Linked DNA regions of Homo sapiens: region 1 is linked to region 2. Evidence: fine-mapped expression QTL. Tissue or cell type: whole blood. Region 2 holds a variant in brackets; the other region holds the start of a gene. All regions are shown on one strand. Distances are from middle to middle.

Evidence for each region. PIP is the estimated chance that this variant, and not a neighbour inherited with it, causes the effect. A credible set is the group of variants that fine-mapping cannot tell apart.
Region 1: it holds the start of FFAR2, and the variant in region 2 is the best candidate, but not a certain one, in a credible set for the expression of FFAR2 in whole blood (INTERVAL, PIP 0.72).

The regions. Positions count from the first base shown.
Region 1 is chr19:35,445,349-35,452,674 of GRCh38, reverse strand. It overlaps FFAR2 (free fatty acid receptor 2), which reads right to left and starts at 4,418. Exons shown (of 2, transcript NM_001370087.1): 1 at 4,296-4,418; 2 at 908-2,961. The coding sequence starts at 2,960. The coding sequence ends at 1,968. RefSeq lists an enhancer at 6,382-6,461.
Region 2 is chr19:35,473,122-35,480,447 of GRCh38, reverse strand. No RefSeq gene overlaps it. Among named protein-coding and RNA genes, the nearest start is that of KRTDAP, 14 kb to the left of the region's middle. The variant A/C (reference allele first, on the strand shown) is at 2,824.

The DNA of each region.
Region 1 (7,326 bases), 28 kb after region 2:
GGAGGTCATTTAACTAGAGAGAATGGTCTAGGAGTCCTTATTGTGGAAAAATGAGCTAGGCAGGTAGAACTGGAAGGGGAGAGAGAGGACAAAGCAAGGAAAAGAATGGTACAATATGAGTTCCTTGGGGGAAGCACTTTTTTTTTTTTTTTTGGAGACAGAGTCTCGCTCTGTTGCCCAGGCTGGAGTGCAGTGGCGCAATCTCGGCTCACTGCAACCTCTGCCTCCCAGGTTCAAGTGATTCTCCTGCCTCAGCCTCCTCAGTAGCTGGGATTACAGGCACGCACCACCATGCCCGGCTAATTTTTTTTGTCTTTTTAGTAGAGATGGGGTTTTACCATGTTAGCCAGGCTGGTCTAGAACTTCTGACCTCAGGCGATCCTCCCGCCTTGGCCTCCCAAACTGCTGGGATTACAGGCATGAGCCACTGTGCCCAGCCGGACGCATCTTTTTAAATTAAATTTTTAAAATTGAGAGACAGGGTCTCACTGTGTTGCCCAGGTGGGTCTCCAACTCCTGGGCTCAAGTGATCCTCCCACCTCAGCCTCCCAAAGTGCTGGGATTACAGTCATGAGCCCCTGCAACTGGCCAAGGAAACATTTTGATGATAGGAAAGCTCTGCAGGTTTCTGAGCAGGAGGGTGACATGTTTTAAGGCCCTGTGGCAGACAGATGACTGTGAATCGGAATCACCCTGCATCCTTTCTAAGTCCGGACTCTCTATTCATCCCTCGAAAGACGATTCCGTCAGTGCTCTCACTTCCTTTGCCCACACCACCTCTTTATCTTAAGATGTTTCTGTGGTTTCAGATGCATCACTTTTCCCCTTTGCTGCTGAATCTGGTTCTCTCTCCTATTTTTGCCCTCCCTGTGCTTGCAGCAGTGTTACAAAAATTGTGGACATTCACTTCAGAGTTTTATCATCTTTATTTTCAATTTGCTAGACCAGGTTGCTTTCCCCTGTATGAGGGAGTGCCAATCTCTGATTGCTGGGTACCAAACCACATCCTGGCCTGTGTGGGGTACCATGGAGGAAGGAGATAAGACCCAGACCCCTGGCAGCTCCCAGTTTAGCAGGGGAGACAAGACAACACATGAAAACAAACAGAGCACATCAAAAAGGCAACAGGTCAAACCAATGCAGGGAAACCCCTATCATTAAAGGTCTAAGCCCTGAGGCCTCCCTGCTCATCTCCAGGCTCAGAACCTTTCTGAGTCTTCTTTGACCTCATTTAGTATTTCTCTTCCATCTCTCTCTTGTTGGTTTATCTCCAGGATCAACCGCTAGAGCAGTGTCTAGGTGTTGCTTTGAAGCTTGTATCGAGATTTCTCTAGGACTCTCTGCTTCAGCCTGGCCATCCCCAACTACCAGCCACATCACAAGGACTGGACTTGTGTTAGCTACGCTGCTTCTCCAGCCTGAAGGTGCTTCTTTTTTTTTTTTTTTTTTTTTTTAAATGGAGTCTTGCTCTGTCGCTAGGCTGGAGTGCAGTGGCGTGATCTCAGCTCACTGCAACCTCCAACTCCCGGGTTCAAGGATTCTCCTGCCTCAGCCTCCAGAGTAGCTGGGATTATAGGCATGTGCCACCATGCCCAGCTAATTTTTTTGTATTTTTAGTAGAGACGGGGTTTTCCCATGTTGACCAGGATGTTCTCAATCTCCCGACCTCAAGTGATCCACCTGCCTCAGCCTCCCAAAGTTCTGGGATTATAGGCATGAGCCACCACACCCGGCAGGTGCTTCTATACCTAACTACTTCTTCGTGCATCTCTGACTTATGCTCCTTTGAGTAGGACAATTCAGTCAGGAAGGGATACCAAGCTGGTGAAAGGCATTTTTTTCAAAGTCGCAGTCCTGGGCTGGGTCTAAGGATTTCTGAATCTGGATGGGAGCCTTCCTGCTCCGCCTCTCCCAGGCTTCCCAGCTCCTGTGTAACCCAGGCGACCTCTGAAGGTCCAGGGAAACTGCTACTCTGTAGTGAAGTCCGAACTTGGCATCCCTTCTCCTTGACCCACACCCCTGTCCTCATTTGTCCCCTCTGCTGTGTCTTTGCCTCTGCGTCCCAACAGGGAGGAGCCCTGATTCCGCAGCACCTGCAGCCCTCTCCCAAATGCCCTGCGCACCACTGAAGAAGAGAAATAGAAGAGCAGGGGGTCCAGACTGGCGTTGAGTGAACTGAACACCACGGCTATTGACCGCCACCAGGGGCTTTTTCTCTGGTGATACCCCACCAGGTGGGACACGTTGTAAGGTCCGAAGCACACCAGGAAATTGAGCAGCGTCACCACAGCCAGCCCCACGGCTCGGCGCCGCCTCTGGGCCCCCACAAGGGGCTGGGAGAGCATGATCCACACAAAACGCCAGTAGCAGAAGATGGTGACTGCCATGGGGATGAAGAAGAGCACCAGGCACAGCTCCAGCCGCACGGGCAGCACCACGTCCAACTGGTTATCGGTGAAGTTCTCGTAGCAGGTAATTTCATTGCCACTTCTGACCTGCTCAGTCGTGTTCAAGTATTGAACGATGATCACGATGGTGCAGTGACCAAAGGACATAACCCAGGCCACCAGAGCTGCAATCACTCCATACAGAGGCCGGCGGGAGAGCTTGTACTGCACGGGGAAAGCCACTCCCAGGTAGCGCTCGATGCTGATGCCCGCCAGGAGCCACGTGCTGCAGTAGATGCTGCTGTAGAAGCCAAAACTCGTGAGGGCGCAGACGACCTTGGGCAGGTACCAGCGGAAGTTCGACGCAGCCTCGATGATCTTGAAGGGCAGCAGCAGCAGCAGGAGGAGGTCGGCCAGCGTCAGGCTCAGCAGGAGGATGTGCACAGGTGCAGGCTGGGGCTGGCGGATCCGCCCCACAAAGGCCCGCAGGGCCAGGAGGTTGGCAGGGAGGCCAGTGAGGAAGATGATGATGTAAGCCATGAGGATCAAGGAGCTCTTCCAGTCCGGCAGCATCCTGGAGGGGAACAAAAAAGGGCGGGGTCAGGGAGGTCTCACTCACAGCCCGCGCAGCCAGCTCTCCTTCAGGATGCGGACATCCTCCCCGGCACCGTCCCCTTCCCAGGACTGTGCTTTCTGATGCCACCACGGCTTGCTCACACCACCTGCTCGAACTACCCAGAGCAATTATTGACTTTGCCTGGGGCGGGATATTAAGCAGTAGTGATTATGTTTGCCATCATGTGTCTCTGGAGGAGACCAACTCGTGGCTTCCCAAGGGAATTCCCCCTCCAGTTTCCCTAGCCTTTCTCCTCCTGTCCTCACAGATACAGGAAGTTACTGTTGCCAGTTTCTAACTTTACTCAAGTCCCTTTCTCAGACAGAGACCTGCAGGAGAGAAAGGCATCAGTGCCGGGAGAGAGCTGTAAGATGCTTATCAGTATAAAGAGGCTGTGGCGCCCCAGGCGCGGATACCCAGTGCCAGCTCTCCAAAGGACCCAAGTGCCCAGCCACCAGCCCAGCTTCCTACTTCCGTTCGTCTGTTTTGCAGAGCACAGATTCTCCCCCACCTTGTCCTCTCCTGTCCAACACCAAACTCTGGGACTCTCTAGAAAAGGGGAAGCTGGGGCTGGGCGCAGTGGCTCACTTCTGTAATCCCAGCACTTTGGGAGGCCGAGGCGGGCAGATCACCTGAAGTCAGGAGTTCGAAACAAGCCTGGCCAACGTGGTGAAACCCCATCTCCACTAAAAAAAAAAAAAATTAGCCGGGTGATATGGCGGGCACCTGTAATCCCAGCTACTTGGTAGGCTGAGGCAGGAGAATCGCTTGAACCGGGAAGCAGAGGTTGCAGTGAGTCAAGATTGCGCCATTGCACTCCACCCTGGGCGGTAAGAGCAAAAACTCCGTCTAAAAAAAAAAAAAAAGAAAAGAAAAGGGGAAGCTGGGAGGCTTAGAGGAGGGTGGAGGGGAAGAAGGATGAACCAGCACTAGCCTTAGGAGGAAGGCTTGTCCCTAGAAGACCTTAGAGAAATATTCAGAAAAGCCCACAGGCCTTCACTGGCCCTTGAGCGTGGCATTCTGACCATAAATAGAACTCGTCTTCTTCACGGGGTAACTCAGTTTCCACTTGGGGTGTCACCCTTGCTGGCCCCAACCCAGGTCCTGTCCCTCTGTCCACTCTCCAGCCTTGATTTCCTGGCTGTTTCCTTGCTCCTCACACTAGCTCCTGTCTCTGGGTATGAGTCTTCCATTTGGTTCTGACATCCTTCCTCCAGTCTCCCAGAACCTTCCCCTCAAACCTGATCCTGGCCTCTCTTCCCAGAGCACAAGCACTACACTAGCTGCCTTGCCTTGTGTTGTTCCGGATAGGTGGCTTCTTGGGATTGGTTCTGAAGGGAGGTCTGCAAGCTTCCAGGAGAGAGGAACAGAGCTTTAGCCCCTGCTTCTGTCCATGCCATGCAGGAAAAAATGGTGAGGAACCTGGCTGGTAGTAAGCATTTATACTAGCACCAGCCACGTGACCAGAGAAAGGAAGGTCAGTCTTTAAGCACTATTTCCTCTCAAACCCAAAGGAAAGGCCCAGCATCTTTATTCTCTCCCTAGAGAATCCTCACTCTTGACTTCCAAATTCAGATTTTTCTGTCCTTAATTCCTGATTTAAAAAAAAAATTCCCAGGCATTTTTCTTTTTTTACTTCCCAAGTCAGATTATTTTCTTTTCTCTTTCTTAGGCAGTTTCTTCTGTCATTCTGCTCATTCTCAGAAATGAGCTTTCCTCCTTCCTTTTTATTTTTCCTCTTTTTTTTTGGTTTTTTTTTTCGAGGCTGAATCTTGCTCTGTTGTCTAGGCTGGAGTGCAGTGGCGCCATCTCAGCTCACTGCAACCTCTGCCTCCCGAGTCCAAGCGATTCTCCTGCGTCAGCCTCCCTGGGATGACAGGCACCTGCCACCACGCCCAGCTAATTTCTGTATTTTTAGTAGAGACAGGGTTTCACCATGTTGGCTGGTCTTGCACTCCTGACCTCAAGTGATCCGCCTGCCTTGGCCTCCCAAAGTGCTGCGATTACAGGCGTGAGCCACTGCACCCGGCACTCCTTCCTTTTCTTCTTCAATTTTTTTACTTTCTCTATGGTCTCCTGCCCTCTGCCCCCAACACATTTCTTTTGCCCGTCTCAGCTGAAACAGGCTGGTCCTGGCCTGCATCTTGTTGTGATGGAAATGGTGTGGGAGTTATAGTCATGCAGATATGGGCTCAAATCCAGGTCCCTTCATTACAACCTTGGGGGCAGATCCGTTTTCTGAAGTCTAGTTTGCTGTAGTCAAGTGAGCATGCGAATTCTGACATCCTAGGACTTCTGCGAGGATTCAGTGAGGTTGTGTATATAAAGCACTTAGCAGATGCCCGTAAGTGCTGCCTCGTCTCAAGCCTGTAACGCAGCTTCACAGAGAGTGAGCCACTTGGTGCAGCCTCCAGAGGCTCAGGGCATGGATGTGCTGTCCCTCTTGGGAAAGTGTCAGGAATTCAGGAGGCCCGAGTTCACGTGCCCATGTGGCTTTTCGTCAGGGAGTGGCACTCAGGCTCCATTCCTTTCCCTGATAAAGTCTCACTGTTTCCCCCTCTCTGACCTTGGTAGCCCCAGGTTAGGAGCTCCTGAAGGTCCCTTTGAAATACACACCTAATGCAGCAAGGATCGTTGGAACGTGTTTTCCTCTTGAACTAGGGAGGAAGTCTCAGAAAGAAGTCTCTGTTCTGCCATCTGTGGCCTGATTCCTGCTCACAGAATCCCCATTCTTTCCCTAGGACATACCTACTTCCTATTGTTTGCCATTCATTCAGTCATTCAGTCAGTCAGTCATTTATTCTTTTTGTGGTCTGTAACCCCAGGGTCTAGACATTTTGATATTTAGCTTTTCTTTCTCGTCCACTCTACTCTCCTCTGAAGGCGTTCTAGTTCTTTATTTCCTTCCCCCAGCACACGTCGCTTCTCAGATCAACAGGAGAACTAAGAAAGAGACCATTCTCTCTTGTTGCCACCAAATTTATTTGTGTCATTTCGCTTTTATGATTTCCTATAAACATGCACGAGGATCTGGATTTAATTGCAGAATCCAGGAAACTCATTGGAAAACAAGTGTTGAGGAGTGGGACTGCCTCTCTGTCTCTGCACGTTCTTCTCCCCCCACCTCCTGCCTTTCGCCGTCACTGTCGTGAGTCCCCCTGTGGAAGACGCCCCAACGAAACCCCCTCTCTGGGTTCACAGCAGTTATGAATGTTCACCGCAGTTATGAAGGGAGCATCACCAAGGAGGCTTTCAGTCTCACAGTTCATGATGTCCACCTACGTCACAGGAAAAGGAAACCCAACCTCTCAGACCGAGTTCAAGGGGGTAAACTTTCACAAGAGCAATATCCTTCACAGTTCCTTCCAAGTTCAGTTTTCTCTCATCGTCTTTATAATGCAGCCTGTCATCACAGGAAGTTGGACCCTTATCTAAAGTTCTGTGTAATCACTTCCACATTCTTAATTCTCACTCGCCCCTCAGTCCACCCTAATCTGGGTTCTGTGCCTATTTTCCATGGGATTTTCTCTTCCCGATGTTAGCAGTGACCTCCATGTTCCTAAATTCAGTGGACTTACGCTTTTCTTATTTTATTAGCATTCAACACAATTTCCACGCCCTTCTGGAAACATCCTCTTTTCACAAATTCTGATACGTTACGCTGCTAGCTTCCCTCTCTTTCCTTTGGTCACTTCTCGTACCCCTTTGCTAGCTCACCATTCCCCTACTCATCCCCGAAATGGTGACTTCCTTCAAGCTTGGCTCCAGGTTCTTTCCTGTTCTCGCCTGTGCTCTCCTTCTAGTCGACTGCAACTGTTTCCGTAGTTCCAGTTACCACCTTCATGACACCCCTGGTTTGAATCTTCACCCTAGGTTTCTGTGAGCTTCACATGTACACGCTCAACTGCCTAGTTGACACTGCCATTGGGTGTCTCACAGGTGTCCCAAATCAACCAAATCAAATGTGTCCAGACCTGGCCTCAGATCTTCCTTCTTCCACCCTTCCCTGTCTTGGGGCGTAAGATCTCTTCCCATCACATCTCCTGCACCATTATCTTAGAGTCAGTCTTTTTTTTTTTTCTTTTTAATTTCGAGACTGAATCTCACTCTGTCGCCCAGGCTGGAGTGCAGTGGCACATAGTCTCGGCTCACTGCCACCTCTGCCTCCCAGATTCAAGCAATTCTCATGCCTCAGCCTCCCGAGTAGCTGGGATTACAGGCATGTGCCACCACACTCGGCTAATTTTTGTATTTTTAGTAGAAACGGGGTTTCACCATGTTGGTCAGGCTGGTCTCGAACTCCTGACCTCAAGTGATTCGCCC
Region 2 (7,326 bases):
GGTGGCTCACACCTGTATTCCCACCACTTCAGGAGGCCGAGGGGGGTGGATCACCTGAGGTCAAGAGTTCAAAATCAGCTTGGCCTACATGGTGAAGCCCTGTCTCTACTAAAAATACAAAAATTAGTCGGGCGTGGGGGTGCACACCTGTTATTTCCAGCTATTCGGGAGGATGAGGCAGGAGAATGTCTTGAACCTGGGAGCCAGAGGTTGCAGTGAGCCAAGATTGTGCCACTGCATGCCAGCCTGGGTGACAGAATAAGACTCAGTCTCAAAAAAAAGTTGATTGAAGGGACCCATCACTTAAATGCAACATATGAATCTTGTCTATATCCTAATTTGAACAAACCAACTGGGAGAGAAAAAGATTTAGGAGACAACGAAGGAAACCTGAACACGGACATATTGATAATAAGACATTATCATCTTTGGTCTGGGCATGGCGGCTCACGCCTGTAATCTCAGCTCTTTGATTTGGGAGGCCGAGGTGGGTGGATTGCTTGAGTCCAAGAGTTCAAGACCAGCCTGGTCAACATAGTGAGATTCCGTCTCTAAAAAAAAAATTAAAAAAAAGAAACAATAAAAAAAATAAAAAGAAATTATATTTTTAGATGTGAAAATATTATTGTAGTTATGTTAAAAAAGAGTCTTTACCTTGCAGATACCTAATGATAAATCTATGTCTGAAGTAATAAACTCTTTAGGATTTGCTTCAAAATAATCCAGTGGGGGGAACAGGTTGGGGTACACAAGAAATAAGGTCGGTAATTACCTAATAAAAAACGAGGTTCATTATACTAGCTTTTTATTTTTGCAAATTTTGAAATATTCTACAATAACAGTTTCTTAAAATATTCAAAAAATTTCCAGAGTATGCTTTTAGAGGAGGGAGGGGGGAAGAGGGCCCTCCAGTGGGCAGAGCACGAAGAACTGGTAGTGCGGGATTCTGGACTGGGAACGCTGTCATTCAGCCGGGCTATCCCGTAGGCGTGGAGGCCTGGAAATGCAGGTTGGGTCAGATGATGGGGGGCTGAAAAATTTCCACTCAATCCCATCGTCAGTAAAGACAGTCCCGAAGGTGGTAACAGCCACAGCCACAATTCAATAGCAGCCATTCTTAATTTGGTTCTTATCACGCGCCAGGCTTTATGCCAAGTGCTTTGCATATATTATCTCAGTTGATCCGCAAAACAAACCTATTAGGTTGGCATCATTATCCCCATATTACAAACAAAGAAATTGAATCTCAGAGAGATAAGTACAGTCATGCTCTGTATAATGACGTTTCGGTCAACAACAGACGGCATAAACAACAGTGGTCCCAAAAGATTATATCATATTTGTACTGTACCTTTTCTATGTTTAGAAACACAAATGCTTATTGTGTTACAGTTGCCTGCAGCATTCAGTCCAGTGACATGCTGGGCAGGTTTGCAGCCTAAGAGCCATAAGCTATACCACACAGCCTAGGTGTGGAGTAGGCGATACGATAAAGGTTTGTGTAAGTGCACTCTGCTGTTCTTCATTTCTCAAAACGTATCTCCACCATTAAGTGATGACGGAGACTGTAATCTGTTCAAGCTCACACAGCCAGGACCCGGCAGAGCCAGGATTGAACCCGTACCTGCATTATCCCTGCTTTAACTGGTGTAATTTGGCCTTCACTTGCTTTATAACCTACTGTTTCATTTAAGACTTTGCTTGAAAAAAAAAATGTTTCCATTCCTTAAAAAATGTTTGGAAACCACTGCTAAGTATCCGCTGGAGGCATTTAAGGTGGTACAACTTAGCGGTTAGAATATGAGTTATAAAATCAGTCAGACCTGATTTCAAATTCTGTTCCTACCACTTTACTAGCTACGTGACCTCTGGGTGGCTACTCTGTCAGGGCCAAAGTTTCATCATTTGTAAAGTGGGAATAATAGCAATACTTCACAAGGGTTTAGAAAACCTCAGTAAATGTTAGCCTAGATTTTTTCATGTTAATAAAAGGTAGCTGTTATTATTATGCTATAAAACTCCACTTAGATAATGACTCAGATAGAGTCATACTTAGAGAAATAATATTTGCAACTGTATTCACTTGCTCTCTTCTGACAGATGAGGAAACTGAGGCCCATAAAGATGAAGTGACTTTCCTAAGAGCACCCACAGAAGAAATAGCAGAGCCAGGCTTTCAACTCAGGTTCTATTAGATTTCAGAGCCCTAGAATTTTTAACTATTTTAGTTTCTTGTGTTGGCTGGGTGCAGTGGTTCACATCTATAATCCTAGTGCTTTGGGAGGCCAAGGCAGGTGGATCATTTGAGGCCAAGAGTTCAAGACCAGCCTCTGCAAGATAGTGAGACCCCTGTTTCTCCAAAAAATCATGAAAAAATTAGCCAGGCATGGTGGTGCATGCTTGTAGCCCCAGCTACTTGGGAGGCTGAGGTGAGAGGATCACTTAGCCCAAGGAGTTCAAGGCTACAGTGAGCTATGATGGCAACACTACACTCCAGTCTGAACCAGACCCTGGCTTAAAAAAAAAAAAAAAAAGCGGGGGGGAGGGGCAGGGGTGGGCATGGTGGCTCATGCCTGTAATCCCAGCACTTTGGGAGGCTGAGGCAGGTGGATCACGAGGTCAGGTGTCCAAGACCAGCCTGGCCAACATAGTGAAACCCTGTGTCTACTAAAAATACAAAAAATTAGCTGGGTGTAGTGGCAGGCACCTGTAATCGCAGCTACTCAGGAGGCTGAGGCAGGAGAATCGCTTGAACCCGGTGGAGGTTGCAGTGAGCTGAGAGCCAAGATCATGCTACTGAACTCCAGCCTGGGCGATAGAGCG[A/C]GACTCTGTCTCAAAAAAAAAAAACAATGGATGTGTAAAATAGGGTGGACCACATGGTGGAATGGTAGCTGTCCAGCAATAAAATAAGAGCGCAGTCCGGGTGTGGTGGCTCACATCTGAAATCCCAGCACTTTGGGAGGCTGAGGTGGGCAGACCAAGAGGTCAGGAGTTCAAGACCAGCCTGACCAACATGGTAAAACCCTATCTCTACTAAAAATACAAAAATTAGCCAGGCGTGGTGGCATGTGTCTGTAATCTCAGCTACTCAGGAGGCTAATGTAGGAGAATGGTGTGAACCCAGGAGGCGGAGGTTTCAGTGAGCCGAGATTACACCACTGCACTCCAGTCTGGGCAACAGAGCAAGGCTCCGTCTTAAATAATTAAAAAAAAAAAACAATTGAGGAATGTGTACACAGGAGTTTGTTAATATGGTTTCTCATATCTTTATGTGTGTTTGAAATACTTCATAGCATAACATTTTATTTTATTTATTTTTGACACTGAATCTCACACTGTCACTCAGGCCAGAGTGCAGTGACACAAACATAGCTCACTGTAGCTTCGACCTCCTGGGCTCAAGCAATCCTCCTGCCTCAGCCTTCTGTGTAGCTGGGACTTCAAGTGCATGCCAACACGCCTGACTAATTTTTAAAATTTTTTGTAGAGATGGGGTCTCACTATGTTGTCCAGGCTGGTCCTGAACTCCTGGGCTCAACTCATCCTCCTGCCTCAGCCTTCCAAAGTGTTGGGATTATAGTAGTGAGCCACCATGCCCAGCCTAACATAATATTTTAAGGCAACCACAATAAAGACACCTTAACTTCAATCTGTCCAAAGCCATTCAGCTGTGAGGGACAAGGTTGAGAATTCTGGTGGCTGACGGGGTGCTCTTCATGTTACCTCCTAAACATAGTCCCTCCTGAGAGCCTGATTTACTTCATTACAAACCCCAACAATGGCGGCACTGTGGAGGCGGCCCGAGAACTTCAACAGGGTGAAATGGCCTCAGATGCTCCTGAGAAATGAACACAGCACCCCGCCCTTGATGACTATCATCCCATTAAGACCTCCCACTACATTTTCTGACACCCAACAGACCAACTGACCACAACATTCCTGGGTTCTCCTCCCCTAAATCAATGACAACCCAAACAAACAAAAATCCCCATGGCTCTCCCATGGAAAGATGCCTCATTTCCCTCACCTGCACCTGAGTCTACTTCCCAGGCTGGTGACCTGAGGTAATGCTCCTTAGCGCCCCCTACAGCAAGTGACCGCTTTTGTATTTAGCCTCCTACTGAGCCTCTATCACCCCTCCCCGAAAGCCCTTTTTATGTTAAATCAGTTCATGCTCTCCCTCTATTCTCTACTCTCTACCCTCCCATGATTTCCCATTACTTCGTAATAAAACCCCATAGATTTTACTATGGGCTTCATCTCCTACCTCCCCCTCCCATCTTGATCACTTTGCTCCAGCCCTCTGCACCCCATTCCAGCCTCCTCAAGGGCTCTTCAAAAGGCCACGTTCCCTCTGCCTGCATGACTCATTCCCTTCTTCCCTTGCTCCCTCACTTCATCCAGGTCTCTGTGGCAATGACACCTCCTCCAAGAGGCCTTGCCAGTCTGATTATTCAACGTAATCTTGTTTTATTTGTTGTTCTAGCCAGAAACCCTCGCACATTATGAAAAACCTCACTCCCCATACAGAGCACCCCTCATCACTCATTCCCAATGTAGCATCAGGGATGGAGCCTGGATGTCCCTCCAGCACTGGTGATCTGATGAGAAAATCTCTCAGGACGTCCAGTTATCACAGATTCCTCTTGTGGCTTATTCTCAGGGTCATCCTGCTTACTAATTCCTAACAGAACATCTGGGGCCCCTCTCCAATAGGGGCAGAAACTAGGAAGACTTTCAATTTTCACTCCTTAAGTTATCTCGAGATGAGATTTTTCAGAGTCACAGAGGTAGGCTAACTGGATTGGGACCACGAAGTGTCATTCACTGTACAACTTAAAAACTGTGTCTCATTGGCCAGGTGCAGTGGCTCGCACCTGTAATGCCAGCACTTCGGGAGGCCGAGGTGGGTGGATCACCTGAGGTCAGGAGTTCGACACCAGCCTGGCCAACATGAGGAAACCCTGTCTCTACTAAAAACACAAAAATTAGCTCGGCATGGTGGCACGTGCCTGGAGCTACTCAGGAGGCTGAGATAGGAGAATCGCTTGAATCCAAGAGGCGGAGGTTGCAGTGAGCCGAGATCGTGCCACTACACTCCAGTGTGGGCGACAGAGCAAGACGCCATCTCAAAAAAAAAAAAATTATCTCTCATTAACAGGTCACCTCGTTATTTCTTATAAATCCGATCATCTGCACAACTGTATTGACCTGAGTATATTTTTGTATCATTCATTCAATGTAAATATTTAGAACACAGCACAATTTTTGGAAAAAATTTTGCTGTTGCATCTGTTCATTTCTCAGCATTTCATTCTCAGTATTCAGTTTCTCAATGAAACCTCCCAAAACCTTACTGGACTTCAGAGAAGCCTTGTCCGGCTGCCTTCCCAAGAAGACCCTGCCTAGGAATAAAATTTCCTCTCCTTGAGGCCCAAATTCACAGTTCTTACTATTTGTGGATAAGTCAATTTTCAGTTCCAACTTGATTTCCAGTTCAATGCTGACTCCTCTGGTCCTCTTGGCTCCATGGTGTGGGCAGGATCCAGAGCTTCAAAATTTACATCCATCACTCTTCTCAGCAGGAACACCTCAGCCCCAACTTCTGCTTCCCTTCTGTCCTCATGCACTTCCAGTCGGGGCTAATGTGCGCATGCGTCCTGGTTCTGGACGCTCTTTTTTTTTTTTGAGATGGAATTTCACTCTTGTTGCCCAGGCTGGAGTGCAATGGTGCAATCTCAACTCCCGGGTTCAAGCGATTCTCCTGCCTCAGCCTCCTGAGTAGCTGGGATTACAGGCATGCACCACCATGCCCGGCTAATTTTGTATTTTTAGTAGAGACAGGGTTTTTCCATGTTGGTCAGGCTGGTCTCGAACTCCTGACCTCAAGTGATCCACTCACCTCGGCCTCCCAAAGTGTTGGGATTACAGGCATGAGCCACCGCTCCTGGCCCGGACGCTCTCTTTTTACCGTCCACTTCTTCTAACACGCTCCCTGAGGTGCCTCAGCCCCTGGGAGGCATTCCTGGCCTTTTGTCACACCTGTTTTGTTTGAGCCACTGCACCGATAGGCACCTTGAGGCCTCGCGGGAGGACGGCCCTCCCTTCCCTGTGTGCAGGCCCTGAAGGGAGCACCACATGGAGACAGGTACAGAAAAGGCGGGAAAGCAGAGATGCAGTGTCTGGGGCTTTGAGGCTGGGTCTTGAAGGGCAAGCCCGTGAGTCCCCGAATAGCGACGAAGCCGCTGAGCTTCTCAGAACCCAGAAAAGGTATAGAGGAGGAGCTCACATGCACACATACACACCCCAATCCATCCATCTGTCATCTATTCATATCTTTATTAACCAATTACATGTTGGGATGATAATCCTCTGAACATGTTGGTTTAAATAAAATATATTAATTTCGTCTGTTTCTTTTTACTTCTTTTAATTTGATTATTAGACAATTAAAAATTTTTAAATGGTGCCTGGAGCTACTCGGGAGGCTGAGGCAGGAGAATCGCTTGAATCCAAGAGGCTTGGATTTTTTAAAAAATAGCTTACATTACATTTCTTTCTTTTAATTTTTTAAAGTTATTTTATTTTTTTTTATTTTTTTGAGACAGAGTTTCGCTCTTGACACCCAGGCTGGAGTGCAATGGTACCATCTCTGCTCACTGTAACCTCCACCTCCTGGGTTCAAGTGATTCTCCTGTCTCAGCCTCCTGAGTAGCTGAGATTACGAGCGCCAGCCACCACGCCCAGCTAATGTTTGTATTTTTAGTAAAGATGGGGTTTCACCATGTTGGTCAGGCTGGTCTCAAACTCCTGACTTCAGGTGATCCACCTGCTTTGGCCTCCCAGATTGCTGGGATTACAGGCGTGAGCCACCACCCCCGGCCCCTTTTAATTTTTGTAGAGACAGAGTCTTGCTATGTTGTCCAGGCTGATCTCGAACTGGTGACCTCAAGGGTCATTCTTGCCTCAACCTCCCAAATTGCTGGGATTACAGGCATGAGCCACTGTGCCTGGCCTTGGCTTATATTGTATATCTATTGGACAATGTTGGGGTTGATAAAAAGGATTCATTGCAAAGCTCCTAACCCAGTGACTGGCTCATAATAGATATCTGATGGATTCTCTAAACATATTTTTACAGATTGCTTCCCTGTGAAAAGGTTTCTGCCCCATGGAGCTCAGCCTTAACTTGGGAGACACACAACAGTTGAGTGAACAAGCAAAGGTACTTTCAGATTATGATAAATAAGTGCCATAAAGGAAATAAAACAGCAGGAATTGGCAGCATTTAATTCAGGTGGCCGAGAGGGCCCCTCTGAGCTGGTG